5 linked regions of the Homo sapiens genome follow. The protein of the gene in region 1 interacts with the protein of each later gene in a pairwise test. Each region holds a gene or a part of one and is shown in the gene's direction. Other genes may lie near its edges. The genes, in order: ODF2L, PRSS23, CEP126, PCNT and PIPOX.

Region 1 (5,033 bases):
GTGAGAGTGCCATCACTGCCCTGTTACCATTGCCCACACTGAGGGGACGGCGCCAAGGGCGTCAATGTTTGTCCTAAAGGCCCTTTCTCCCATAGCTTCAGCTCACACTGGCATCTCTCATGCATAATTGTGCTTGGAATATGTACAGAAGAAATCTTTATAATAACTTAGAACCGAGTTCATAGGAATTAGGTTGGAGGACAGTCCTTTCCACTAGCTCCTTGTTCCTGGATCAGTCCCTGCCTCTACTCTCATTCTTGTGGCTCCAACCCAGCATTCTTACAAATAGGCTTCCTTAGAAGGAAACATATCTGATTCCTTAGATGAACATAACTAAGCTAGACTTCCTGCTAAAATAAGTAACCAGAGAAATATGAAAATTCAAATTCAGACCAGTTTGGAAGTGAATGAATGAAGAACCAGTCTCTGTGTTTGTGTGTGTGTGTTTGTAGGAAGTGTGTATACCAATTCCTGCTCCCAATTCTATTAATCCAAGTGTATAATGAGTATTTAACAAGAAATTTCTATGTTCCATCACTGCTCTTAACACCCTGGTGAATATAAATGCTATAAAAATGGTAATTGGTCTCAGTCTGTTTTTAAAATATACTGTTGGAGAAAACACCTACCTAAGTCACGGAGCAGTGAAAATGTATACATCTCTTCCATCTCAAGCCAATTTTGCAGATATTTAGTGCTGCGAAGATAAGTATAGTATATACTTACGCTATATATGCTTCTTCAAGATAGAACATCTTTAAACTTGGATATAACATACAAGTAATATCTGTTTAGAAAAAAGGTACAATATAACTGTCAAGGCTTTAAATCATATTTTAAAGAAAGCACTTTATTTTACTCTTTTGATAAAAATTACAGGTTGCTGAAGAAATAGAGAAAATGTCATCTAGAGAGAGTGCTTTACAAATTAAAATATTAGATCTGGAAACTGAGCTTAGAAAGAAAAATGAAGAACAAAATCAACTTGTTTGCAAAATGAACAGTGTAAGTATTAGCATGGCTTAACATATTATAAAAGATAACATTTAACATTCTTACCATGTAGAAAATACAAAGTGAGTGAATCAAGTCTATTGTTTTACTGATAATATTAAAAATAACAAGCAATATAAGACATAACAAATAAAAATGTTATGATATGCCAAATAATTTATTATTCTGCCTCTTTGGATGGCATGTATTGCATTGCCATCAAATCTCATCAGGCACTTTCCCTACATATTACTTTTGCAATGACATCTGCTTAATGAAAATTACAGATATAATCTACTTGATTTCATCCTGATATGAATTTTTCATTTTTTAAAGATAAACACAGTGTAAACTATTATTACAAGTGAGTTTTATATCTGTCTTGAATAATGAATATTTTGTTTTAGAAAGTTATAATTTTGTAGTAAACATTCAGTATTGTTAGATATACATGTGAGATGGATGCTTTAGTCCACTCAGCCATGAAATGAAAATACCAAAGTGACTGTGCTTAATTAGTCTTCTGTTTTTTTTCCTGAATACTCATGAAACAGTCAATTGGCATAGAATATTCTGAAAGCTAGCATTACTCATGATTAAATTACGTAATAACTGTCTACTAGATAATGACATAGAGAATAATGATACTGTGTTTTTTCCAGGATCCAGAGACTCCATGAAATCTATTTTTTTAATTCCCAAGTGTCTAAAAAGTTGAAAACCTAAAAGATTCAAGAGTTAAATGATTTTTGGCATGCACAATTTGATTTTATTGCCATCAAAAGTTTCATGACAACTTAGTCAGAACAAAACGTCGATCACCTTTAATTTAGCACAGGCCTTCCATTTATTTCTAAACTTTTTTTTAACTCACCATTTGACTTTCTGATATTGTAAAATGTGTGTGCTGTTTTTTTGTGTAATTGAAGCCTCTGAAAAAATAAATGAGGTGGGTTTTGCTGTAATGTCCCTAGTACTTGGCTAAAGCTAGTAAAATAAATAGATCCCATTCACAATTGCCACAAAGAGAATAAAATACCTAGGAATCCAAATTACAAGGAATGTGAAGGACCTCTTCAAGGAGAACTACAAACCACTGCTTAAGGAAATAAGAGAGGACACAAACAAATGGAAAACATTCCATGCTTATGAATAAGATGAAACAAGATCATGAAAATGGCTATACTCCCCAAAGTAATTTATAGATTCAGTGCTATCCCCATCAAGCTACCATTGACTTTCTTCACAGAATTAGAAAAAACTACTTCAAATTTCATATGGAACCAAAAAAGAGCTCACATAACCAAGACAATCCTAAGCAAAAAGAACAAAGCTGTAGGCATCACGCTACCTGACTTCAAACTATACTACAAGGCTACAGTAACCAAAATAGCATGGTACTGGTGCCAAAACAGATATATAGACCAATGGAACAGAACAGAGGCCTCAGAAATAACTCCACACATCTACAACCATCTGCTGTTTGACATACCTGAGAAAAACAAGAAATGGGGAAAGGATTCCCTATTTAATAAATGGTGTTGGGAAAACTGGCTAGCCATATGCAGAAAACTGAAACTGGATCCCTTCCTTACACCTTATACAAAAATTAACTCAAGATGGATTAAAGACTTAAGTGTAAGACCTAAAACCATAAAAACCCTAGAGGAAAACCTAGGCAATACCATTCAGGACATAGGCATGGACGAATACTTCATGACTAAAACACCAAAAGTAATGGCAATAAAAGCCAAGATTGACAAATGGGATCTAATTAAACTAAAGAGCTTCTGCACAGCAAAAGAAACTATCATCAGAGTGAACAGGAACCGACAGAATGGGAGAAAATTTTTGCAATCTATCCATCTGACAAAGGGCCAATATCCAGAATCTACAAAGAACTTAAACAAATTTACAAGAAAAAAAACCCCATCAAAAAGTGTGCAAAGAATATGAACAGACACTTCTCAAGAGAAGACATTTAGTCAGCCAAAAAACATATGAAAAAAAGCTCATCACTGGTCATTCAGAGAAATGCAAATCAAAACTACAGTGAGATACCATGTCACACCAATTAGAATGGTGATCATTAAAAAGACAGGAAACAACAGATGCTGGAGAGGATGTGGAGAAATAGGATGCTTTTACACTGTTGGTGGGAGTGTAAATTAGTTCAACCACTGCGGAAGACAGTGTGGCGATTCCTCAAGGATCTAGAACCAGAAATACCATTTGACCCAGCAATCCCATTACTGGGTATATACCCAAAGGACTATAAATCATGCTGCTATAGAGACACATGCACACGTATATTTATTGTGGCACTATTCACAATAGCAAAGACTTGGAGCCAACCCAAATGCCCATCAATGATAGACTGAATAAAGAAAATGTGGCACATACACCATGGAATACTATGCAGCCATAAAAAAGGATGAGTTCATGTCCTTTGCAGGGACATGGATGAAGCTGGAAACCATCATTCTCAGCAAACTAACACAAGAACAGAAAACCAAACACCGCATGTTCTCACTCATAAGTGGGAGTTGAACAATGAGAATACATGGATACAGGGCAGGGAACATCACACACCAGGGCCTGTCAGGGCGTGGGGGGCTAGGGGAGGGATAACATTAGAAATTCCTAATGTAGATGACGGGTTGATGAGTGCAGCAAACCACCATGGCACGTGTATACCTATGTAACCAACCTGTACGTTCTGTACATGTATCCCAGAACTTAAAGTATAATAAAAATTAAAAAAAATAAAGATCTGATGTTTTGTTAAACCTGATAAGTTTTGTACTAGTAAAATTCTAGAATTCTAAGCATAGATTTAAACATTGCTGAAAAATGAGTTTGTGTGTTTTATGCCTTCCAGGGGACAGTTAAGTGGGCAGTATTTATTTAATATACCTGCTTCAGCCCCATTTGAATTGTAAGCACTCTGAAAGCATGTCTCATAGTCGTCTGTATCCCTGGTGTCTCCCACAGTGCCCTGCTTACCTGCAGGCCTTTTTGTATTTTCTGTCCAAGTACCCTAATAGGGTGGTGCAGAATGGATGTACAGATCTGTGGATGACCTCAGCAGCTTAATCCAAGGCACCCCTCGGGAAGCCTGAAATGTCTTTGAAGTCTTATGTATTATCCTAAAATCCATTGACATTTTATATTCTACCCTACAAAATAAGTATGTGTTACTATTTTTCTTTCCAAATTGTTGAGTAAAACTCATTGTATTCATCCTGTGACTTTGTACTGCCCAGCCTAGCTCATTGTTTTTTACCTGCCTCATTTCCTGAGCTGGGCATTGCTCAGTTTCAGAAGGTATCAGGTGTCATTGAACACCTGATATGAAGGATGTAAAAGTTCTCTCTTTTCTATCTAGGTGTCTATATTTTAATTGGAGGCTAGATGATATTTGCAACCTGTCTTTATCTAAAGCATTGTCAGTGAACTCACCTACTTAGGAATTCATATGCACCTTAGTTAAAAAAAATGTATTGTGGTTTTAAATTTTTTCCTCAACCAGTGTAATATGAAGAATTCTTTTTATTTTTTAAGAGATTCTAAGAAAATGTTCACATTATCAAAACTAGAATTCTATCAACTTTTAAGACATTTAATTATTTTGGAATAAAATGTGAATTTTTAGACAGAAAATGGCAAAAACTAGTATGAAAATATATCATGTTACATGTGAAATTATGACAGTTGTTAACCTATTAAGTTAATCATGTTAAATATGTAATAATTTGGGGCTAAATGAATGTATATTATAAATTATATCAGTGAAGATCAACCATGTGTGTGCTTTAATTATTAATTTTAAAGAGTGAGCTCTAAGAATGAACACATCAGATGTGAGTATTATTTTAAAAAATCAAAAAGAATTATCTAGTTATTGTATATATGTTTTTAATATTATGACTCTGGTCCTTTGGAATGAATGCTATTATTGCTTATCTGTATTTTTTTCCTTTTTTCTTTAGAAAGCACAACATCAGGAAGTGTGTTTGAAAGAAGTACAAAATAGTCTT
Region 2 (6,637 bases), on another chromosome or scaffold:
AACCCATTGCAATGACATATGGTGTGGGCAAAGGAGATATGGTAGATGGAACGAAGGAAAGAGGTGAGAGAATTGAGTCTGCATTGGGCACCTCACACATCATGAGAGTGGCAGAGCCACAGGGAAGTCAAAGGTACTGACGCCTCAGCTGTCAGTACCATGCAATGCTGATAGTAGTCCAGGAAACGTTACTAATTTCAATTTTATTATTCTGGAAGAAAATTTTTATAAATCTGTTTTGGTTTTATTTGCGAGTTGTTCAAAAGCTGTAACATAAGTTTATATCTGGTTTTGTGTCTGTGTGTGTTTTGAGACAGGGTCTTGGTCTGTCACCCAGGTTGGAGTGCAGTGGTGATCATAGCTCATTGCAACCTCCACCTCCTGGGCTCAAGCCATCCTCCCACCTCAGCCTCCCAAATAGCTGAGACCACAGGCGTGTGCCACCACAACTGGCTAGGTTTTTTGTATTTTTTATAGAGATGGGGTTTTGCCATGTTGCCCAGGCTGGTCTCAAACTCCTAAGTTCAAGCAATCTGCCCACTTTGGTCTTCCAAAGTGCTACGATTACAGGCGTGAGCCACTGAGCCTGGCCTATGTCTCTATATATTAATGTGACATTTTAAAAGAAAACAATTGAAGCTAAGCTAAGAAAAATTTGCCCTTAAAATGGTGGAAAATATCAGTTTCCTTTCTATTTAAGAAATACCAGGCCGGGAGCAGTGACTCACGCGTGTAATACTTGCTGAGAAGGGAGGATACTTGAGCCCAGGAGGTCTACGCTGCAGTGAGCTATGATCCTGCTACTGCACTCCAGAATGAGCTACAGAGGGAGTACTTGTCTTGAAAATAAAATAAAAGAAAAGACCACACAATAATGTGTTCAGGGCTTTCTCATGTAAAAGTAATTGCAAACACCAACGTATTAGGCATATCAGTAACACCTTGGTGTGAAATAGCACTTTAGACCTTCCCTTTCTGAGAGTAGACTTTGATAGGAGAAAGGAAAGCTAAGTAGCTTGATAGAAAGCATGGCTCAGTGCAAAATCTTGTCCTACCATTCAGTAGCTGTGTGATTTTGGGCAAGTCATAAAACCTCTCCAAACCTCCTGTTCCTTATAAAAATTAGTGTAATCTCTGCACCTTCTTCACCACAATGGCCTATATGTAAAGCTCTTGACCGAAAACGCTCAATACACAGTAATCTATACTAAATAGGAAGGCTCTAACACTAGGACCTTAAATGGCAAGGTCTCCAGCCTGGTTAGGAGAGGACTCCCCGCACACCCCCCTACCCTGGCCCCCAACCACCACCACCAAGATAACGACCGCTTGGAGTGATTCAGGGAAGTAGGCCCACTGGACAAGGAGGTGGCTCCACCAGCTGGTGCCCCGATGAAGAACTGAGGCCAGTGGGCTCCCCAGCCACCGCCGCTCAGAAGCTGCCAAGCACCCCCGGTGCTTTGGGCCCCACGCACAGCACTGAGTGCTGTAAGGAAATGCAAAGCATTGGTGGCCCTGCCATGGGAATACAGGTTTCTGTTCTTTGGAGGCACCGGAGAAACTAGGAGTTCGGTCAGCACCTTAAGGCGCTAAAAGTGTACGTGGGGGTGGGGCGCACACAGGTTCTGAACCAATTCTTCAAATTTGCCCAGGGCTCCCCATACACCAGGTGTGGCCCGCGTCCCTAGTTCTAGGCTGTTGGGGGAGGGGTCGCCTTTTGTAGGGGACCTGGTCTTTTTGCGAGCTGGCAGCGTGCTCCCAGCAGCGAAGGCCGTAGTCTCGCTCAGGAGGCCGCGCGCCAGACCCGGGGATGCGCGGTGTTCAAAGGGTGACGGCGCGCGGGTCCCGGGCAGGAGAGCCCGCCAGAGCCGGTGCTGCCTGGCGCCGAGAGGCCCGGACTGGCGACTGCTGCCGCGCCACCGGGGCCCACCTGCGCAGGGACGCTCGGCCTCAGGCCCTCTGGGCTGCTCCACCCTGCTCCGGCCGCAGGCGAGCGGCGAGGGGAGGGGGGCACGGTTTATGTGCAGTGGGGCGGGCGGCGTCCGCGCGGCTTCCCCGAGGCCGGAGGCGGGGCGGGCGGGCCTCGGGTGGCGCGGGGGGCGGACCCGCCAGCTGCCTGCGCTGCTCGCCAGCTTGCTCGCACTCGGCTGTGCGGCGGGGCAGGCATGGGAGCCGCGCGCTCTCTCCCGGCGCCCACACCTGTCTGAGCGGCGCAGCGAGCCGCGGCCCGGGCGGGCTGCTCGGCGCGGGTGAGTGCGGGCACCGACTGGGGCATCCGCCCGGGCGCGGGAGAGGCGAGGCGCCGGGAGGAGCGGGACAAAGGGCCGGGTATGCGCGGGGTAGGGTAACTGCGGGCTGCCGGAGGCACCGCAGGACTTCGCCAGGGCAGTCCTCGGGGTTCCAGGACACGGGCTGGGGGCCTGAAGGAGCTCTGGGGAGACGGCGGGGGCTGCAGGTCATTTGGATTCATGCAGTGTCACCCATGAAACGGATGGGGAAAGAAGATCCTGCTGTCTTGGGTGCAGGATGTTGGTTGGGAAGCAGAGAGAGCCGGCTCTCGGCAAGCTGTCCTTCGGCGGGGGCGATGGCTACACCCCCATGCACCCCCCCAACACACCACCACCACTACTTCTTTTCCTTGAGTTTTGCATATACCGGATTCCATCAAGTTCTGAATATTAAGTTTTAACCCTGGGCATGTGATTGTGAACACACCTAAGCAAGCAAGAGAAGTGCAAAAGTGCAGCAAATACAGGCTGGGAAATAGAATCTTTTCTCCGGAGTGGTTGTCCGTGTGCGTTCCGGGGGTGCTAACCCTAGACACTACAGTCTGAACTAACAACAGTTGTTGTAAGCAAATAGTTCTTCTGCCTGTAGGCATTCATCACGAGTTAACTTTTAAATAAAAGTTTTAAAGTTTTAAAAGGAGCGGGAGAAGACTTGTTCAGATGAAGGAACACCACCACTCCTCTCCAGAATACAAATTAGGTTTGCTTTCCAGCACCTCAGGAGAAAGCAGCTGATAAAAATCCTGTTTGTTTTACTGCCCACTGGGTGACACCAGTAAGAATTAAGCAGCTCAGTGTAGGTATTGGAATAGGGCTTGCTTCTCTCAGCTCCTGAAACTAAATTTGAGGGCTCCCTGTGCACTCCTTAGGAACAGGTAGGCCAGTGCCAGAATCCTCATCACATGGTCATGTGAGAAAGAATTGAATTTATAGATGAGGTCAGCTGTGGTCAAAAGCCCTATGTCAAAGTAGTATCAGGATATTTATTGCATGTTGTTTCAAGATCCTACTTGTGCATGCGAGTATTTGTGACAGGTTTATAACCGTGCCTACCATGAAGTCTGTCAGGAGTGGATTGGAGGTGAAGTGGGGAGAAGGAACTTAGAAAATGCCCCCAGAAGCCACTATGTTTATTTGTGAAAGTGTTTGCACCCCATCTGCGTACGAAAAGGTTGTTTCACTTGCAGTTTTCCTAGTTAAATAAAGTCAAGCGGTAACTTGTCCTTTCCTGTGCCTGAACTGGGAAGGAAGCCTTTTTCCAAGGTGCCTAATATGGATCTCATTTTTGTAACACTGACGACTTATTCAGCTGGATGGTTAACATGGATGCATTTTCTGGTTGTAGCATAAGTGTCCATTAATGCATCTGAGAACATTTTTGTCCCCAGTCTGCAATGGTTAATAGTCTCAGGTTCTCCCAGTAACTCTTCTCATAGATCCCTTAGGATTTCATCCACCAGGCATTATTCATGCCTAACTCCCACAGACTCCAGGGAATTTGTTTCTCATGTTCTCAATATTAGCAGGTTTTTTTGCACTCTGTTCTTGTTCTGCCAGGTTTGTCCCAGGCTCAATTTAGTTTACCTGAAATCCGATAGAGAAGAGGCTAAACTTCATTTGACCACAAGATTGTGTTTAGGGTTGCTTGGACTTGTAAGTGCCTTGTAGTTTCCTGTACAAGACTGTAATTCTTAAACGATTATGTGATTAGGTCTGTTTTGCCTTAATAGGGTCTGTGATTCAGGAAAACGAGAACAAGCCCGACTGCAGAGTATTCACAGAGCTTGGTTCATTCTTAAGCATTTGCTTTAGGATTTAGCATGATTTCACCGTTCCATATCACTGACCACTGATTCCATGGAAGACCCTTTGTCATCTCTCCAAATGGTGTCCAAAACCTGTATCTTTGCAAACTTTCCTGCCGTTTCTTTCTGTCATTACTGTTTATAGCGGCTGCAGGAATTCACAATTTGTACAATAGAGAATACATGACCTAAGGATTAGGTTTTCCCTCCCAGCACTTGTTTGCTATAGGAGTTAAATCATTCTCTCAAACAGTGGCCCTCTTGAGGAGACCTGTGTTGTTGCAGTTTTCAAGACTAAGGTGCCGTGCAGGAGACAGTAGTCACTGCATCCAGTCTCCAAAGAGATTGTTGTTTGCATATCTGTTAATTATGCAAAGTCCCACCACCAAGGGCCTATGAAGTGGCAGCATCCTCAAAAAGTATAAATATTTTCAGACAGTGGCTCATATTGAGTGATGGAGGGTGGACTGTGTAACCTATTTATGAATCAGATACCCAAAGCTGGAAAAGGAATAGTTTCTGTATTACTAAGCATGGTGAAAAAATATTTTCTTACCTTCATTTTCCATTCTTCCCTGCCAGTTAGGTGAAATGATGCACGGAAACACTTGGTTGGAAACCTTAAAAGATAATTTATGTATACCAGGAATCTTTATTCAGCAAAAGTTTATTCCTAGAAATGAAACGTTATAGACCTAAATTTTCTTCATCCAGACTTAGGTAAAAGGGTGAGATTTGAAAATCTTCATTCCATTTTTAAGGTGTGAGTCTTCCAGGCAGCTCTGCAAGGATAAGGTGATTCATTTATAAGGGTGAGAGAGAATTTAAAATCATGTAACTCATTAGTTACCTTTCCAGGTGTGGGATTATGAATGTTTTCATTACATCTGTTTATACCTTAGATGAGTGTTTATGTTTAAGTAAACTTAAACAGGTATAGCACAGGCTTACCCAGGGTTTATACAGATGGTAACAATAATTATTTGTCTTCTAAGGAATTACTCCATTATCATGTGAGTTGAGAAATGAATGTAAATCCACCAACCTAATTTTAAAGCATCACAGTTTTGCATCATTTGTTGTTTTATTAATGCGGATGAGTCAGGGCAGGCTGCGAATGCCTCAGGAAAGACCCTTAATGGACAGGAGGGTTGTTTCCCCCTCAGGCTTTTCTTTGGGGCCTGTCTTAAGAGCATACACACACAGCCATCCCTCCACTCAGTTCTTGAAAGCTGCCTTCTGCTGGAGTCACAATTTGTACAATAGAGAATATATGACCTAAGGATTAGGTTTTCCCTCCCAGCACTTGTTTGCTATAGGAGTTAAATCATTCTCTCAAACAGTGGTCCTGTTGCAGACTGATCAGGGAAATCTTGTCTGCCAGATAGATGAGAAATTAGCATGATTCATTTTCCTTTTCCTTTTCCTTTCCCCCTCCTTTGCCTCCACCCTCCATAATTCCATGAATCAATGGTCCTGAGAAGTAAATGATAGTACAGACACTATAGTCAGCATCGTCCCTGACCTGGACTTACGTGATTCTGGAAAATTATAATATTAGGGAATCCTGGACCTAAAGACCAGAGCTAAAAAGACCAGCTAAAGCAATCATCTGGTTGAGGATGCTATTCAGAAGAATTTCTAAAGCACCCTAAATAAACATTTGGTAAAGGACTAAGCAACTTAAGAAGCTTGTAGCTTTAATACAGACATCAGTTTAAACCCATTTAAGGGCTTGAGAACCCACAGCTGTATCTTCTAATTTCTGATTAGATATTTTAAAAATATCTAAGCCTAATCAGTTTGAAGTAATTTGATGGGCATTAGTTTCTAAAAGTCTGCATTCATTTCTAAATCTGAATTAAACTTTTTTAAATGCAATTTTATAACTTTTAGCGTTACATGGAAGCTTTAAGCAAGATATATAATGCTGTCAGAACAAAGTCTTATCACACAAGTTAGTAAATAGGGTTTAGTAATGTGGAGAACTTGGAAGCAGAGTTGCAAACTAATAGAAATTAGGACTTATTAAGTCTCTGAAAAATTTATTCTTCAAAGTTAAAGCTTCACACTGTCCTGTTGGGTTAGCAGTTTGTTTTTTTCTTATAGATGGCTGGCTTCTCCTTCACTCCTGGCTAAATGAACAGAATTCAAGTTGTAAGAACTCTGAATTAGTAATATTCTATCATGCAGTAGACTCTTTAGCATTCTCTAACAGGATTCTGTGATTCATAACTGATCCCAAAGTTTCTTGAGACATAATCATTCATCATTTTGCCAAAGAATACATTTGATCCTCTATATTGAGAGGTTGGAGTAAGGCTGTGGCTCATGAAAGAGGATATTGTAACTGCCATGTTCTTCATGCACATTGAAAATATTATCTGTAGCTGATGATAATACATACTATAATACTACCTCATCTCCTACTCTTTCTCCCCCAAGAATCGTATTTTAAAAACAAGAACGCTTGGCAGGTTGGACCTCCGCATTCTGTGTTTTCTTTCTTAAGATAAGCTGAAGTAAAACTTGGCTTACCATGTG
Region 3 (5,816 bases), on another chromosome or scaffold:
TAGTGCTTACAATGAACATACCCCTGCATGTCTTTATGATAGAATGATTTGCATTCCTTCAGGGTATATACCCGATAATGGGATTGCTGGGTTGAATGGTACTTCTGTTTTAAGTTCTTTAAGAAATTGCCACACTGCTTTCCACAATGACTAAATTAATTTGCATTCCCACCAGCAGTGTATAAGCATTCCCTTTTCTCCACAGCCTCACCAGTATCTGCTATTTTTTGACTTTTTAATAATAGCCATTCTAACTGGTGTAAGATGTTATCTCATTGTGGTTTTGATTTGCATTTTTCAAATGATTAGTGATGTTGAGCTTTTTTTCATATGCTTCTTGGTCACATGTGTGTCTTCTTTTGAAAAATGTCTGTTCATGTTCTTTGCCCACTTTTTAATGGGGTTGTTTCTTGCTTGTTAATTCATTTTAGGTTCCTTATAGATTCTTGATATTAGGCCAGGCATGGTGGCTCATGCCTGTAATCCCAGGACTTTGGGAGGCCGAGGCTGGCTGGTCACCTGAGGTCAGTAGTTCGAGACCAGCCTGGCCAACATGGTGAAACCCTGTCTCTACTAAAAATACAAAAAACTAGCCAGGCGTGGTGGTGTGCACCTGTAGTCCCAACTACTCAGGAGGCTGAGGCAGGAGAATCGCTTGAAACTGAGAGGCAAAGGTTGCAGTGAGCCAAGATTGCACCATTGCACTCCAGCCTGGGCAACAAGAGTGAAACTCTATCTCAAAAAGATTTTTTAAAAAGATTCTGGATGTTAGAACTTTGTCAGATGCATAGTTTGCAAATATTGTCTCCCATTCTGTAGGTTGTCTGTCTACTCTGTTGATAGTTTACTTTGCTGTGCAGAAGCTCTTTAGTTTAGCTAGGTTCCATTTGTCAATGTTTGCTTTTGTTGCAATTGCTTTTGATGTCTTCATCATGAAATCTTTACCAAGGCCTATGTCCAGGATGGTGTTTCCTAGGTTATCCTCCAGGGTTTTTATAGTTTTAGGTTTCATTTAAGTCTTTAATCCATCTTGAGTTGATGTTTTTGTGTATGGTATAAGGAAGGGGTCCAGCTTCAATCTTCTGCACATGGCTATCCAGTTATCCCAGCACAATTAATTGAATGGGGAATCCGTTCCCCATTGCTTGTTTCTGTCAACCTTGTTGAAGATCAGATGGTTATAGGAGTACAACATTATTTCTGGGCTATCTACAGAATATAAACATTTTTATATTCAGAGTATTTTCATCAGTCATGGGAGCAGAAACAGGTATTAGTGTACCAATCTTCAAATAACTTTAGATGTGTATCCTAATTGAAAAACTGCTAAGAAGTGTACATCGGTAAGTATCCATATCTTTTCTGTGTCTTGAGAGTTTTTTTTTTTTTTAATTATACTTTAAGTTCTGGGATACATGTGCAGAACATGCAGGTTTGTTACATAGGTATACATGTCCCGTGGTGGTTTGCTGCACCCATCAACCCATCATCTACATTAGGTATTTCCCCTAATGCTATCTCTCCCCTAGCCCTCCACCCCCGACAGGCCCTGGCGTGTGATGTTCCCCTCCCTGTGTCCATGTGTTCTCATTGTTCAACTCCCACTTACGAGTGAGAACATGCAGTGTTAAAACTAGACATTACTGAATCTTTTTTTTTATTTTTTGCCTTGGCACTGGGTTCTGGTAAAAATGATCTGGAACAGCACTTTTCAAACTTTAGTGTACTTTGTACCACCTACAGATCTTGGTAAATACATTTTCTAATGTAGTAGGTCTGGGATGAGACTAGGTAATACCAATGCTGCTAACTAACTTTGAAACACAAGTTAGTTCTATGTGAAGCACTAACTTCACATAGAAACATGAACATGGATACACATTGGAATCACATGGAGAGCTTTAAAAAATACTGATGCCTGGGTCATACCTGAGGGCAGCTTGGGCATTTAGATATTTTTAAGCTCTCTGAAGAATTCAAATGGGAAGCGAAGGATGAGAAACACTGGTCTAGAAACAGTGATGACAAACAAGAAAGTCACCTACCCTTCCTGGTCCCCTGTCCTTTGTCCATCTGGGAGTTCGTGGGGAAGGGGATCAAAGTGTAGCCTGCACTGATGAGGAAAGCCAGTGAAGTAGTCAGTCCAAGTACCCTCTCCCATTGACAGTACTGGACATACACTGACAAATTCTTCTTTTGCTGGACTTCTCTTAGTCACCAATCTATCAATAAAACAGCAGTACTACATAAATGTTGAATTAACTATTATAGTCAAGAAAGAGATTTATGAAATACTTTCATGTCTCTGACAAATTTTGCTTTGCTTCTCATTTGCATTGTATAAGTGGTCTTCCATTTCTTCTTCCGTTTATTAAATATTAAGTACCGTCTATGTGCCAGAAACTTTGCTACATTCTAAAAATACATCATGAGCACAAAATAGCCAACTTTGCTAAGGCTAGGATTCACATTTCTCAGTTAGAAATTTTGGCCACAAAAGAAGAAGGCAGAAGTGGTCAGAAGCCATTATTGTTAGAAGATCATCATGGTTAGTCAGTGATGGACAAATACAAAGGTGCCCAGCAGCTCACTCCTCTCCACTCTATAGCATCTTCATGACTACAGGCCCTGCTGACCAACAGCAGCCCTAGGCCGACCACCAGGCACTGGGCTGCAGACCTGAAGACAGTAGCTTCAGAAAAGCAGAGTCGTTCCACATTCGGCAGTTTCCATAGATTTCCCCAGCAAGCTCCCCCTTCATAGTTCCACTTCAGCAGCTTGGGCATGCTTGGATTATCAGATTTCCCTGCAAGCTTCAATTTGTTTACCCACACCAGTGCTTCAAACAGCCTGCTCAGTCATCCTTTCTCTGATCCTGACTGGCACGCCACAGTAGAGCAGGCTACATTTTTATCCCTTGCCCCATATACTCTGATCCTTCAATTTTCCTTTTCCAGACCCTCATTTTCCCAGCTCCTATATTTGGTAAAATGTAATTCCTGTGATAAGTACCTTAGTCCCATAATTCTTATAATGGCTTTGTTTTCCTGATGGATACGGTCTGATAGAGGAAACATAAAAATAAGCGGTCTCTTATAAATCAGTGTAAAAAGCACTAACTTCACAGGCATATGAACATATGGGAAATGAACAACATTCTGAGTTCTGAAAAAAGCTTCAGAGTTAGCCAAATGAATATTATTTCAGAGACTGAAAAGGAGAAAGGAACTTCCAAGGACTAAATGAAACAGATTCAGGATGAAGAGGGAGAGAAAAAACTGGAGAGGGAAGCAGGGGCTAATGTTCCCATAGGTTTCCTTCTGGCGTGCCTAACTATGTGGGTTCCAGGCCCTTTCATCATTAGTTCCGTCGGACATTGTTTTCACAAGCTCACCCCCAAGAACTCCCATTTCTGCTATACAACACTATAGAGTTTTATTGGTACCCAGAATTTATCTAGAAGAAAATTTTAAATAAAGAGCTTTAAATGCAGGTTCAAATAAATTAGAATTTATCATTTCACTTTGAACCCTGAATTTTTATTTATTTATTTATTTTTGAGACGGAGTCTTGCTCTGTCACCCAGGCTGGAGTACAGTGGAGCAATCTCAGCTTACTGCAACCTCCGCCTCCCAGGTTCAAGGGATTCTCCTGCCTCAGCCTCCCGAGCAGCTGGGATTACAGGCACGTGCCAGCACACACAGCTAATTTTTGTATTTTCAGTAGAGACAGGGTTTTACCATGTTGGCCAGGCAGGTCTCGAACTCCCGACTTCGTGATCCGCCTGCCTCGGCCTCCCAAAGTGCTGGGATTACAGGCGTTAGCCACTGTGCCCAGCCTGAAACCTGAATTTTTAATGATATTGTAAAACTGCACATTTTCAAAGTGGGAATTTTACCTTTTAGAGTAGAAAGGTACTGATGAACATAATGTAAGGGTTGAGGTAAATAATCTATAAAGTCCTCTGCAATCTTAAACTCATTACCTGGGAGAATGATGTCAGGATGTGTTGAATATGCCACTATTTGACATGTCAGCCTAGTTTGTAGCTGCAGTGTTTTGGCATGTGTTTGCATGCTTGTTTCTTCTTTCTGATTTCCAGGAGAAGAGAGAAGATAGAACCAGCAGCTGCAGAGACAAGAGATAATTCCAGCAGAATCCGTCTAAGAAGACCTTTCATGTACTTCCCTAGGACTAGATGCATACCGTTTTGTGAAAACCAGCCATAGGAAAACATGTGAGCAACAACCCCCATGAACATTTGTCCTAACTCAGATTTTGTGAGCAGTGAAGTTTAACAGAGCAGTGACATTTAACAAAGCAGTGAAGTTTAACAGAGTTCTGAGAATACCATGAAAGACATTATGCCTGCCTAAACAAAAAGCAGGACATAACCTAGCTCTGAATACATGCCACAAGGATGAAGCTTGTGAGTAGAGCAAACAAACGTTTTTCCAAAGAATTCACAGTGCTCCTTTGCAATTTATAGATTTCATGTTGAAATATATGTTAAATAAAATTTCTGTTTATTGAACCTCTTTATTAAACCTCTAACTTACTGATAAGATGTTTATGAAGTATGGCATATTTTGATTTTTTTAATTGTAATAAATATTCTTAAAGTTACCACATCCCACAAAATGGCCCTTGGTGGCAGCAATAGAGCAAAGGTTACCTTTTTGTATGGTGAAGGGAGGCCTTCCTATGGCTGTACAATTACATCGATTCTTCCAAATTTCATATTTCATACATGGCACTTTGGCATACCGAAAAAACATGAAATTTTTCATTAAAATGCCATGAATCAAGCCAGGGCCGTTGGCTTATGCCTGTAATCCCAGCACTTTGCAGGCCGAGGTAGACAGATGGCTTGAGCTCAGGAGTTCGTGACCAGCCTGGGCAACCCTGTCTCTACAAAAAATACAAAAATTAACCAGGCATGGTGGCATGCACCTGTAGTCCCAGCTACTTGGGGTGCTGAGGCGGGAGGATTACTTGAGCCCAGGAGGATTACTTCAACCTGGGAGGTTGAGGCTGCAGTGAGCTGTGTTTCGCCACTGCACACCAGCCTGGGTGACAGTGTGAGACCCAGCCTCAAAAAAAAAAAAAAAAAAGTGATGAATCAAAATTAGAAATTAAGAGTTTTAAGAAAACATGTGGCCTTTTATTAATAACACTACTAAATTTTGGTTCCTCCATAGAATTAGTTTTGAAACACTTGATGTAGTGAGAAATGCATTAACATGTTGAATGCCTACCATGTACCAAATTTTGTGCATATATTTTTTATTTAATCTGACCAGCCACCCAAACCATGGGTATTTTTGTCTCCACTTTAGAGATGAGAAACTGAGCCAAGGCCACATAGCTACCTACAGTGACAGAATCAAAATTCAAACTCAGGTTTATCTAGTTCCAAAACCCATGTTCTTTCTGCCACACCATGTTAGTAGAAATGGAAACTATTGGATGAAATGAGGAAAAACAGGAAAAGAATTCACTTTTTAAATGAAGAAATTAGTGAAAAAATTGACCTAATGAAGGAAACATTTGTGCTTTCCTATATTTTTAATTTTAAGAATAGGATTTCGGAAGGCGACAGAAAATTTAGTTCTTAGACATTTAAATAGAAAGTTGTGTGCCCCTATAGAAAATATTTGAGAATTTCTTATACTATCAAGAAAAAATTCTGTGAATTAAGATGTAATTTATAAAATAACATTTCAATGGGGGTAAACAGGCCAGAAGAGTGTGCCAAGTTGTTTGTGAATCATTCCAAGCACCTCAGATGAAAACTCACTTTTATTAAAAAAAAA
Region 4 (6,040 bases), on another chromosome or scaffold:
GGGCAGCACACTGCATGGTTTTTTGGTCATTTTATTCCTTGAAACTCCATAATATGTTCTTTTTAAAGATGAATGGCATTTGAGGCCTTAGAGAAAATACAGATGATGAACTTGTCTTCAAGAAGTCATGTGTATGAATCTCTCACCTTCTAAAACTAAAGATTTAAGGGCACCTTTGTATTACAGAGGAACATCTTGACTTTTAATGGGTTTCGTGCCACAAAGAACGTGCTGAATTTCTAAAACTGTTTTTCCCCCTAAACACTGTGCGGCTGTGCCTGCTCCCTGATGCCACAGAGGTGTTTCCCAAGGCCACGCGCGGGCCTGTCTGGAGTAGCAGATGCAGCAGAGAGCAGCTAGGAATCCCGCTCCTTTCAGAGACCAGGTGCCGAGCCAGTTCAGTCATCGCGGCTGCAGGCTGGGCCAAAGTGGGGTGCAGGCGAGGCCTCCTGGGTTGCTGTACTCTCAGCTTCTCTGGTCCTGGGGCACTTTGTCTCCTCGTCTCTGAGCTCCCCTGACCGTAGGCCTCCACCGTCCATCCTTCCACCCACCCATCTGTCCATCCTGTGTTCATGGGGAGAACACCCTGCAGGAGGAAGCATTTTAGGCACTAGATAGGGGAGGTAAGCAGACCCAGATCCTACCTCCTGTCGAGGAGGGGAGATCTTTTGAAGGCAGTGGTGTCCCAGAAAGGAGCAGTCTCTGTGTCCCTGTGAGGGCACTGCCTAGGGTAGCTGCCACCAAGGGGCCTTGACAGGTCTTATGGAGGAATCGGCAGTGTCTGCTATGCCTCAAAGGAGGGAAGCCACAGGCATGATGCTTGTTCCGAAGGCCATCCTAGCAGGGCGTCTGGGGCCCTGCACACTGACCTGCATGCCCTCGTCACCTGCACTCTGCATGCTCACCATCTGACGGACTCCTGCGAGGGCTGGGGTCTCCGTGTTCTGAGCCTGTCCAGTGGCATCTGTGACAGGATGAAGATGGGAGGGTCCTGCACACCAGGCGGGAGCGGCATGTGTTTCCTAGTCACTGGTGTGGCCGGCTGACTTTGAACTGGAGTCGTCCTGAGCTGGGCCATGGTGGGTGTCTAGGGGACCATATGGTCCACGGTGGGGCCGCAGTGAGGCTTTGTCAGGTGGTTGGGCATGGGAAGGTCGCCGCCGCCGGCAGCCCTGCGAGCACTTTGGATGTGTGCACCCGGCATGCCAGGCCCGAGTCAACAGACTGGCCGACCTTGGCGTCCTGGTCCCCATGGGCAGCGAGGCCCCCATTCTGCTTGTTTGGTCACAGTGGGGTTTTCATTGCTCTTTCCCTTCCTGTCTTGCCGTACTTTTAAGTGTGTCTTGTCTCTTTTTTTTGTAGATTACGTTTTTTGGTTAAGAAATGGCAAGAAGTAGATCGGAAAGGAGCTCTGGCACAAGGCAAAGCCCCTCGCCCAGGTGGGACTCCAGCTGCTGTTGACCGCTGGACTCACAAACCTTTCTTTCTACTCTTGTTTTTCATTCACTTTGGGTCATTTTTCAGTGTTGATGGGGACGTAATAAAGCACGGTAAGAAAATCCGTGAATTCCGTCAGAGCAGTCGTCCAGAGGGAAGGCGCGCCCGGCGTAGGGAGGTCAGAGCTCATGTTAGCTATGAACACAGGTCACAGGGGCGTACGGCGATGGGAAACACTGAGATGCTCAATATATTGATTATTTAATAGTGTTTAGCAAAATGGTCTTTTTTTATTCCTTAAATCAACTGAAACTCACTTCACGTCTCTTTCCTTGTAGAGCATCATGCTTATTTCTGGCTCACTCACATCTTTGTCTCGGGAGTTCTCTGCCGAGCCATTGCCCCCTACAGCAGAGAGCACAGCTGGCTGCACTAGTGCTGAAGGAGCCAGCCCCAGAGCAGGGCATTTCCAGGGGCTCTTGTCCCAGAGCGGCAGGCGTTGTGTGCAGAGAACGCCCCTCCCACGCAGCACAGAGAACGCGGGGTGGGTGTGTGGCTCCGGGCCTGTGGGGCTTAGGCTGCCTGAACCACCGCCGACTGGCACCATGACTCGGCATTCCTGGAAGTGCCTTACCAAGTTGTTGTTGTTGTTTTGTTGTTTTTTAAGAGACGGGCTTGCTCTATCATCCAGGCTCGAGTGCAATGGCACAGTCACAGCTCACTGCAGCCTTGAACTCGTGGGCTCAAGCCATCCTCCTGTGTCAGCCTCCCCAGTACCTGGGACTGTGGGCATGAGCACTGCGCCTGGCAGCTGTATCAGTGTTGACTCCACATTTTAATAGTTGCTTCTTGAAATTAAAATGCTTTGATTCAGCCTTCAAGCCATCAGGAAAGTTTGCCCCTCTGAGTCACACCTGGTGGTCTCCAGGGTTCCTGCCCCTCCCTCCTGAGCCAGCTCCTCAGAGCGGATAGAGGCAGGACCCCCACCCAGGTCTTGAGACCCCCCTGCCCCGCACTCCCCCGGAGACGGGCTACCCCTGCAGATGCAGATAGTCAAAGCTCAGGTTTCTTCCAAAGCTTTTAAAAAGATATTGTACCTTGAGCACTTTAAAAATGTCTTAAAATTGCCATACAGGCTCTTAAAAGCTTATACGTTTAAACTGTTGATAGATGGGCCTTTACTAAAATGCATTCATTTATTTTCCTAATCCCTTGGTTGTTAAATAATTCTGGGGAAGGGCCCCGAGCACGACAGCCGCAGTCTCCACCCAGAACCAGAGAGTCCCCCCCAACCCGGGATGTACCCTCTGGCCACACCAGGGACCCTGCCAGAGGCCGCAGACTGGCAGCAGCAGCCTCCCCACACAGTGGGGGAAGGTCAGTGTGATGCCTTCAGGCCCCGTCTCCTGCCAGGGCTCTCCCTCCAGCCTACATAGGGCCTCAGAGAAATGCATTTTTAGTTCTGGCTTTGGCCCAGCCCAGGGCAAGGCAGGAAACTCTCCAGCGTGAGTCCGTGAGGGCCAAGAAGTCCCGCCCTGTTCTGGGGGAGGACCTGGCTTTTCTGGTGTCTCTGGTGCCCGAGAGCCCGGTGCTGCCATCTTTAGTGAAAGAGTAAATGGTGGCCGAGGGCTCCTTTTGTGAGGGATGTGCCTTGGTGAAGAAGGCATGTTCCCTGCCGTGAAGATACTTGGAAGCTCTGGGTGGAGAGGGAAAAGGGATACCCCTGGTGCTCCCTGGGCCTGGCGGAAGGCTAGGAGGAAGGACAGCTGAGGTGAGGACTGAGTGGGGCAGGTATCACCCTGACAAACAGTTTGGGAAGATCAGGAAAGGCAGGTGAGACCTGGTGCAGAATCCAGGTTGGGTAATAGATACATCGTCGAAGATGTAGCAAGCAAAGTAATATACTCAACTCTGGAACATTGCACAGAAGCTTTTAAAGCACTCTGTGACACTTTTTGTAATGAGGGATCTGAAGGAAACGGCCCCAGAGTCACCCATCCCCACGGGTCTGGTTGGCGGGGCTGGTGCCTTTCTTCTGCACTCAGTCACCATGGCTCCGTCTGTCAAACTCAACTCTTTTTTTTTTTTTTTTTCTTCTCTTGGTGTGGTAATTTGTTTGAAGAGCCACTCCATCCCCAAATTCAAGATTAGAAAGATCCCTGACTGCTTCTCAAGATCCAGAACATTCCTTGACAGAGTATATTCACCATTTAGAAGTGATCCAGCAAAGATTGGGAGGGGTACTACCAGGTAATGCAAGTCCTCGCCGAGTATTTATTAAGCTGATTATCACTGTACCCTGGAAACGTAGGGTCTGTTGAAAGATGGCTGGTATTCAGCTTAGTAACCAAAGTTTCAGTCTGAACAATCAGTGTCACTAATAGTATTAGAATAGAGGCTACAAGTGAAGAATCTCACAGAAGTCTAAGCCAGTGTACTCAGTGATACGTGCTGAGGTCAGTTTGACTTAATCACCGTCTGGACTTTTTTGTCCTTTCTCTTACATTGATAGCGAACATAAAGATTATATTTCGACCAGGATATAATTTGTTCAGTGTTTCTTAAATATCATAATTTAAACCACTGTATAATTCATATTTTTACCAAAATTTACATGAATTCAGTGATAGTGTTTCAAAATTGTGGAATTCTTTTCAAAAAATCTGTGAAGCCTTGTAACCAATTTGCTGCCTCATTTTTATTTATATGCAGATTCTACTTCAAAGAAATCCTGCCACCCGATGATTAAACAGTGAATAAAATGTCATGGCTCTTTCCTGCGACAATTCTATTTGAGGAAAAGATTTGTTTTTCCCTTTTCCCAAGGAAGCTCGTGGGACAGCATGGGCACTACTCTTCATGTGCGGTGACACCAGCCCCCAGATGCCTTGAATTAAGTGTCCTCACCTTTATGCATGACTGCAAAGCCAGCTGGAGCATTTTCTATGGAGCCTCCGTATGTTTTAGGCCCATGACCTTCGTGAGGTGACGGGCACTCACTCCCATGAGCCCTGGCTGTGTGCTGTTGTGTGCCTATCGGCAGATCCATCCTTCCTGCCTCCAAGGAGGATACACAGAGAATGGCTTCCTGTTGTTTTGTTTATTTTCTTAACGTGTACAGATGGAAACTTCATTTAAAAATAAAAACAAAACAACTCAAAAAGGAATAAAATTTAATCACTGTTTTGTTTGTGAATAGCCCTTGTGTTGTTTTTTTTTTCCATTTTATCCATTTTATCAGTTTGCCTTTCTCACTGACTAAAAAATTGAGCAGAGAGTTTATGTTAAACTCGTAAGTCAAAAATTTTCAGTGGAACCCGGAGCATTCTTGAATAGCCACTTGACTGTTGTTTACTCTTACTTGGTTTCTTATTTTTTTAAAGATGCTGCCACTATGTATCCACCTCTCATGGCCATGCTTTTTGTTTTTGAGATGGGAGTCTCCCTCTGTCACCCAGGCTGGAGTGCAATGGTGCAATCTCGGCTCACTGCAACCGCCGCCTCCTGGGCTCAAGCAACTCTCCTGCCTCAGCCTCCTGAGTAGCTGGGATTACAGGCGCCCACCACCAGGCCCAGCTAATTTTTGTATTTTTAGTAGAGACAGAGTTTCACCATGTTGGCCAGGCTGGTTTGAATTCCTGACCTCAAATGATCCATCCTCCTCGGCCTCCCAAAGTGTTGGGATTACAGGTGTGAGCCACCACGCCCGGCTGGCTGTGCTTTTTTATGTTTCACTCATACTCGCTTAGACTAGACAGTAATACCTAGCCAAGGACCCTTTATCCAAAAATGTACTAGATGGGTATAATTTTTTTATTTTTAGAGACAAGGTCTCGCTCTGTCACCCAGGCTGGAGTACAGTGGCACAATCACAACTCACTGCAGCCTTGACCTACCAAGCCCAAATGATCCGCCTGCTTAGCCTCCCGAGTAGTTGGGACTACAGGTGCGCACCACCACGCCTGGCACTAATTTTCGTATTTCTTTTAGAGACAAGGTTTCACTTTGTTTCCCGGCCTGGTTTCAAGCTCCTGGCTCAAGCAATCCTACTGTCTCTGCCTCCCGAGTAGCTGGGAGTACAGGCACGCACTGCCACATTGAGCTAGTTGTTTTTTGTTTTTTTTTTTTTTTAAGTAGAGATGGAGTTTCACTCTGTTGCCCACACTGGTCTTGAACCCCTAGCTTCAAGTGATCCTCCTGCCTTGGCCTCCCAAAGTGCTGGGAATACAGGCTCAAGACACTGTGTCCAGCCCTAACTTATAGTTTATTGAAGGAAAAATAAATGAAACCATGAGGAAAAAGATGAACATGGGCTATTCTACAGTTAACTGCCCTCGTTTCATCAAAGACAATGGGACATGAATGTGAGGAGCCTGTTCTAGCTTGAAGCCAAGAAGCTGTCAGCCGGGTGTGGTGGCTCACACCTGTAATCCCAGCACTTTGGGAGGTCGAGGTGGCCAGATCACAAGGTCAGGAGTTTGAGACCAGCCTAACCAACATGGCAAAACCCGGTCTCTACTAAAAATACAAAAATTAGCCGGGTGTGGTGGCAGGCCCCTGTAATCCCAGCTACTCGGGAGGCTGAGGCAGGAGGATCACTTGA
Region 5 (6,040 bases), on another chromosome or scaffold:
ACTCCTGGGCTCAAACAGTCCTCCTACCTCAGCCTTCCAAGTAGCTGGGACTACAAGTGCCACCACACCTGATAGTTTTTAAATTTTTGAGAAGACTGGGTCTTGCTATATTGCCTAAGCTGGTCTTGAATTCCTGGGCTCAAATTATCTTCCTGTGCATAATCCTTCCCCAGATTGTGTGGAAATATTTGAAGGATAAATGGCTCCTGGTTGACAGCACATGCTGATATGGCTCTTAACAGGGGATGCAGTGTGAGGGGTAATGGCTTCCATCATCTCTCTTGTTTTCCACTTCCAGTTCTTTCTACCACACTCCCGAGGAAGCTCCCATGGACAAAGCCGGATAATCCGAAAGGCGTACCTGGAAGACTTTTACACCCGGATGATGCATGAGTGCTATCAGATATGGGCCCAGCTGGAGCACGAGGCTGGAACCCAATTGCACAGGTGGGCTGTGGGAGGAATTCCTTGAATCGTGGGGCTCTGCACCTGCAGGTACTTTTAGTGTGTGAAGTGGCAGCGCCATGGAACATTTGGAATGCAATGGGAGGGACACAAGGCCTCAAGAAGTACCAGATGCATGGAAGAGTTCTGCTGTCATGGTGGTCACCCCACAGGTCCAGCTGACTCTGGCCAGGCTCTGCGTTGCAGGACTGGGTTCAGACCATGTGTCCAAGGCTAGCAGAAGCAGTACTGGAAAGCCTGCTGGCAAGGCACCGTGTGGCAGATGCCCAGAGTGGACAGGAGTCTGCTGGAGTGTGTATTTTCAACTCTGTGGAGGCCTCTGCAACTCTTTTAGGGCAGGGGTTGAGATAGAGGAGGAGGCTGCTTTCAGGAGGATTCTTTTTTTTTTTTTTTTTTTTTTTTTTTTGACAGAGTCTCGCTTTTTTGTCAGGCTGGAGTGTAGTGGCGCCATCTTGGCTCACTGCAACCTCCACCTCCCGGGTTCAAGTGATTCTTCTGCTTCAGCCTCCCGGGCAGCTGGGACTACAGGTGCGCACCACCACACCCAGCTAATTTTTGTATTTTTAGTAGAGACAGGGTTTCACCATGTTGGCCAGGATGGTCTTGATCTCTCGACCTCATGATCTGCCCTTCTCGGCCCCCCTAAGTACTGGGATTACAGGTGTGAGCCACCGTGCCTGGCCCAGGATTCTTTATAGTCAAATCAACATCCTAACTTTTCCTGAGGGGTCCTCACCCCCTTTAGCAGCCCTATAAACCCATTTTGTTCTCTCTGAGTACCTTTTCCTGTAGGAACAAAATGGGGACGTTCCCCAGGCTGGATTGCTTGCCAGGGAGTGAGCCTCCACGTCTTTCTCTGCTGCCTTCATGGCTCTCTCCAACCCTTGACCTTTCAAACACTCATGGGAAAGAAAGCCAATAATCTGTGATGCAATGGGAACTTTAACCATCCCACCTCCCTCCCACCTCCTCTGTGACTCTTAACTGAACTTCCTACAAACCCTGGCTCTACCTGATAGGGTGGTGGTTATTTTAATGGCCAGGAACCAAGAGGTTAGTGTTCTGTTGCAAAAATACCATTAACTTAAGAACAAAGTGAAATCCATTATGCAAATCAGCCAGGGCAGCTAATTACAGATTTATTCAGAGGCAGCTAATGCACCCAGCACCCAAATAAAGGAGCATGTCTTGCTGGTGGGTGGCCCGGCAGAGGGACCCCTCTCTGTCAGTTGTCTGTGAATACTGCTGAGCATCTTTTGCTAAAAGAATCGCCCTGGGCCTCAGAGGGCACACTTCCTCCTAGCACACAATGAGGCAACTAAGAGACGTTAGAGTGTCTGGAATCTTTCCGAGGGAGACGATTCTGGAGTGAGACAGGCTTAGGTTTGACATTGTGCTCTATTCCACACCAGTTGTGTGATCTTGGAAAAGTTTCTTGACTTCTCTGTGCCTCACTTTTTACGATAGGGCTCTGAGAGGATTAAATGAGACTTTTGTGAAATACTTGGCCCAATGTCTAGCACCTTTCAATAAGGGGCAGTCCCTTATTGACCCATTCTGGGTCAGCTGCATTCTGTTCCATTGAGCAACAGTGGGAGGAAAGGCAGGAGGAGACAGATGGGTGCAACAACCACAGATACCAAGGGGAGTGGCAGCAGGAAAGAGGGAGAGGGATCCTTGGGTAGGAGACTCTCAGAAGCGCACAATCCTCCTCTTTGCCAGGAGGACAGGAATTTGGACGGGCTTTGGAACTGGACCTGGCTCTAAATCTCAGCTCTGACACGCTCAGCTGTGTGGTTTGGAACGAGCTGTTGAACCTCTGGTGAGACTCAGCTTTTTTCATCTGTGAAGTAGGGATACTAATACCTGTGTCATGGTGCTGGGGTGAGGATAAGTAGGTAATGGGCTTAGAACAGCACCTGGAAAACCATCTTCCTCCTCCTCCTCACCATATATGTAGTGTTTACAATAAGAAACTAGGCTGGGCATGGTGGCTCACGCCTGTAATCCCAGCACTTTGGGAGGCTGAGGCAGGTGGATCACCTGAAGTCAGGAGTTAAAAACCAGCCTGGCCAACATGGTGAAACCCCGCCTCTACTAAAAATACAAAAAGTAGCCAGGCATGGTGGTGGACACCTGTAATCACAGCTATTAGGGAGGCTGATGAGGCAGAAGAATCGCTTGAACCTGGGAGGCAGAGGTTGCAGTGAGCCGAGATCACGCCACTGCACTGCACTCCAGCCTGGGTGACAGAGTGAGACTCCGTCTCAAAGAAAAAAAAAGAAAAGAAAAGAAAAGAAAAAACTAAGAGTTGCCTAAGTACCTGACACCTATAACTCATTCCATTCTCCTCACAATCTTATGAGAGGGTTGCTGCCGGGTAGTCAGGGTCTTATCCCATTAATGCAAATCACAGAATTACTATACTCTTAAGTCTAGAATAGAGGTTGGCCAGCTTTATCTATAAATGGCCACGTAGTAAGTATCTTAGCCTTTGCAGGCAACGTGGTCTCTGTTACAATTATTCAACTCTGCCATTGTAGTGTGAAAGCAAGATGTAAATAAATGAGCCTGGATGTATTCTAATACAACTTTATTTATAGACACTGAAATTTGAACTTCATATAATTTTCATGTGTCACTCAACATTATTCTTCTTTGGATTAAAAAAAATCAACAATTAAAAAATTTAAAAACCATCTTGGCTCATGGACCAGACCAAAACAAGCAGAAGGCCAGATTTGGTCCCTGAGTGGTAGCTTGCTGGCCCTGGGTGTGGAAGATACCTCAAACTGGTTAACTTGTCCATTTCTGTCTCCAAATAAGTTCATGCCTAAATCATCCCAGGTCAAAAGACTGCTACTATGCATTTAAAGACAGGGAAATATCACAGCCCTTCTTAAAAGACCATTCTGATGTCTCATAGCCCCAGTTACGAAAAATGAAAAGTAATGTGAATATGCTTTAAAAACCTCTAGAGTGCTAAGTATTCTTACTACTATTGTTATTATTCTATTATTATAAGTCCTTTCTTATGGCTAACCTAATGTACTCAGGCACACCAATTTATTTGGTTCTTTTACTTAGCAGGGACACAGAGCAGATACTTCCCATTCTCAGAATGGTATCTGAATACAGCTCTACTACCTTTGGGCTAAAAGCCATTCTAATTCCTTTAGCTTTTACTGATTCTTATTTTCTAAATGATTCATCATCTGTGTGGTTCTTACTTTTCCCCAGGTTTTTCTAGAAGAACCAGCACAATACCATAATACTACTGATAGATATGAGCATACTTAATGCTATTTGATGATGATTAAAAAAAAACCTTTAGGAGTTGGCAGTTCAGGTGGTTGTCCAGTGCTTTTCATTCTGTTTAGCTGCTTCCTGTGACAGCGGCATACTAAACATGGGTGGGTTTGGGACATTTGCATATATTCTGGGAACAGACAATGACACATGTGTCAGATCACAAGGTCTGAATCTTTTGTGATGTGTACAGCCAGGATGCTGATTCCAACAGCAAAACCCAGCTCCCTGGCCCATCTCTTTCCTGCCCCGCCTTCTCCCTTTGAGTCCTACTGTCTAGCTCCTGACCTGGGCTGCCCCTGCTTAGCTGACAGTATCAGACAAGATCACAGCCGTAGGCAGTACAGCTGCTGGCAGAACCTGGTGGCCCCCTCTGCAGCTGCTGTTTCTTGTGTCTGCGAAGTGTCTGGCTTGTCAGCCACATCCCCTCCCTGGAGCAGTCTTTGTTAACCAATTCCACCTCGGCCCACTGAACGGAAGATGAAATGCCTAGAGCTCCTCCAAAACCAACAAAGGCAGCAGCCATTACCAAGTCCCCATTCGAATCCCTTCCCCAAGGTGACTCAGAGCTGGCTTGCTGGGCATTTTTAACCCACAGAGGGGAGAGCTGAAGCTTGGGATGGGAGATGGCAGGTGCAGGGAGAGCCGTCTCCTCTCCCAATTCCTCCCCACTCCATCCTACACCCTGTCCTGCTACAGTAACTGGTGGAAATCCCTGATCACCAACTCCCTACATCATATCTGAGGCATTAGTCGGGCTATAGCAGAGTCAACAAGGCCCTCGGGAGGAATCTTCAATTACCTCTTCCTAGTGCTGGATCAAGCTAGGGTCAGGAGGAAGGAATAGTTCATACTAAATGCTCTTGACTCAGCTGATGGGCATTCTGGGAGGTGGGAGCTGCACTCTTTTCTAGGGTTCCCTGGCAACCCATGTGCTGGCTTTCAGTCCTTCTTTGTAGCTAGTCCTGACCATTCATTTCCCGGTCATTTTTTATCCTGCTGATGCCCTTGTCTCCTCTCACCCTTCTCCTTCCCAAACTTACAGCCCAGGTCTAAGCAGAAAAAAAGAAGACAGGGAGGCCACGAACACAGGGGTGAGAAATTGATGCAGAATGAGCAGTCTATTTGTTGGTATCTAGAAAAAGCCATTAAGAAAATAAGCACTTAAATGATTTTCAATCTGCCCATGGAAGCCATCCATCTTCATACTGGGAGGAAAAGGCCCATTCTCCAATCCCGGTTTTGACTGACTGGTTTCCAATTCTCTAAGCATTTCCCATAGGAGCCTCTCACCTATCTCCCATAATCACAGGCCTTTGCATTTCCAGGCAGTGTTTTACATTTATTTCCGATTTGCTCATAATGGTCAAAAATCTCTCTCCAATCCAAGGCATTTCTCCAGCAGCGCACGGTTTCCCTCAGGCCAAATAGCTCAGCTGTGATCCACGGAAAATGAGAATTTCCCAAACACATCTTCGGACTAGGGGAGGGTCTGGCATCACACATTCAGATGGAAAATTTCCCACTGTTATATCAATATCTGGGCTAAGAAAGAAATGCCACAGGGGCAGAGAGCTGGAGCAAAATGATTACAATCGGCACAATTACATTCACCGGCAGAATCAGCTCGCTGATTACTCCCAGGGATGGGGAGCTCCCGCTTCATCCACCACAGGATGGCTTGGGAATTAGAACATCACTCAGCATTTCATAATTCAACAGATATGCCCGTTGTCTTGGCATGAGTTCATTTTTCCCACATAGTACATCCCTGTAAGAGGAGTCATTTCAAGGAAAGAAGGAAAGAAGGAGGAAAGAAAGGAGGAAGAAACAATGGAAAAAGGGAAAGGAAATCTCAGAGTATATGAGAGGCCAAAGCTGGTATATTGCAGGCAGAGATTAGAATATGCTGCTCTGGAATTTCCAGGTCAGGGATTTCACATTACATCTGCTTAGGTGTGGTTTAAGCCAGGTCTGTCCCAGAATCCCTCCCAGCCAGGACCCCATTGGGTAAAAAGGACTCAAGGAAATACACCTGAGTGACTTCATACTTATTTGTTGAGTAAGAAGTTTACTAGGGCCGGGCACAGTGGCTCATCTTATAATCCTAGCACTTTGGGAGATCAAGACAGAAGGATCGCTTGAGGCCGGGAGTTTGAGATAGGCCTGGGCAACATACTGTGTGACTCTTGTGTCTACAAAACACAAAAAATTCGCCAAGTGTGGTGGCTCACGCCTGTAGTCTGTAGTCCCAAATATTTGGGAG

The links.
Region 2: the proteins of ODF2L (region 1) and PRSS23 interact in a two-hybrid assay, tested with the Homo sapiens proteins (one large-scale study listed by BioGRID and IntAct).
Region 3: the proteins of ODF2L (region 1) and CEP126 interact in a two-hybrid assay, tested with the Homo sapiens proteins (one large-scale study listed by BioGRID and IntAct).
Region 4: the proteins of ODF2L (region 1) and PCNT interact in a two-hybrid assay, tested with the Homo sapiens proteins (one large-scale study listed by BioGRID and IntAct).
Region 5: the proteins of ODF2L (region 1) and PIPOX interact in a two-hybrid assay, tested with the Homo sapiens proteins (one large-scale study listed by IntAct).

What each region holds. Positions count from the first base shown.
Region 1 is NC_000001.11:86,348,831-86,353,863, reverse strand, and holds part of ODF2L (protein BCAP), read left to right. Parts: intron 1-879; coding exon 880-1,005; intron 1,006-1,655; coding exon of another isoform or gene 1,656-1,673; exon of another isoform or gene 1,674-3,763; intron 3,764-4,985; coding exon 4,986-5,033. UniProt on the Homo sapiens protein: Acts as a suppressor of ciliogenesis, specifically, the initiation of ciliogenesis.
Region 2 is NC_000011.10:86,798,403-86,805,039, forward strand, and holds the start of PRSS23 (serine protease 23 precursor), read left to right. Parts: upstream 1-2,139; 5' UTR 2,140-2,249; intron 2,250-6,637.
Region 3 is NC_000011.10:101,993,497-101,999,312, forward strand, and holds part of CEP126 (centrosomal protein of 126 kDa), read left to right. Parts: intron 1-4,102; coding exon 4,103-4,147; 3' UTR 4,148-5,816. UniProt on the Homo sapiens protein: Participates in cytokinesis. Necessary for microtubules and mitotic spindle organization. Involved in primary cilium formation.
Region 4 is NC_000021.9:46,441,135-46,447,174, forward strand, and holds the end of PCNT (pericentrin), read left to right. Parts: intron 1-1,362; coding exon 1,363-1,439; intron 1,440-2,675; coding exon 2,676-2,814; intron 2,815-3,559; coding exon 3,560-3,687; intron 3,688-4,149; coding exon 4,150-4,193; 3' UTR 4,194-4,635; downstream 4,636-6,040. UniProt on the Homo sapiens protein: Integral component of the filamentous matrix of the centrosome involved in the initial establishment of organized microtubule arrays in both mitosis and meiosis. Plays a role, together with DISC1, in the microtubule network formation.
Region 5 is NC_000017.11:29,044,561-29,050,600, forward strand, and holds part of PIPOX (peroxisomal sarcosine oxidase), read left to right. Parts: intron 1-298; coding exon 299-447; intron 448-6,040. UniProt on the Homo sapiens protein: Metabolizes sarcosine and L-pipecolic acid.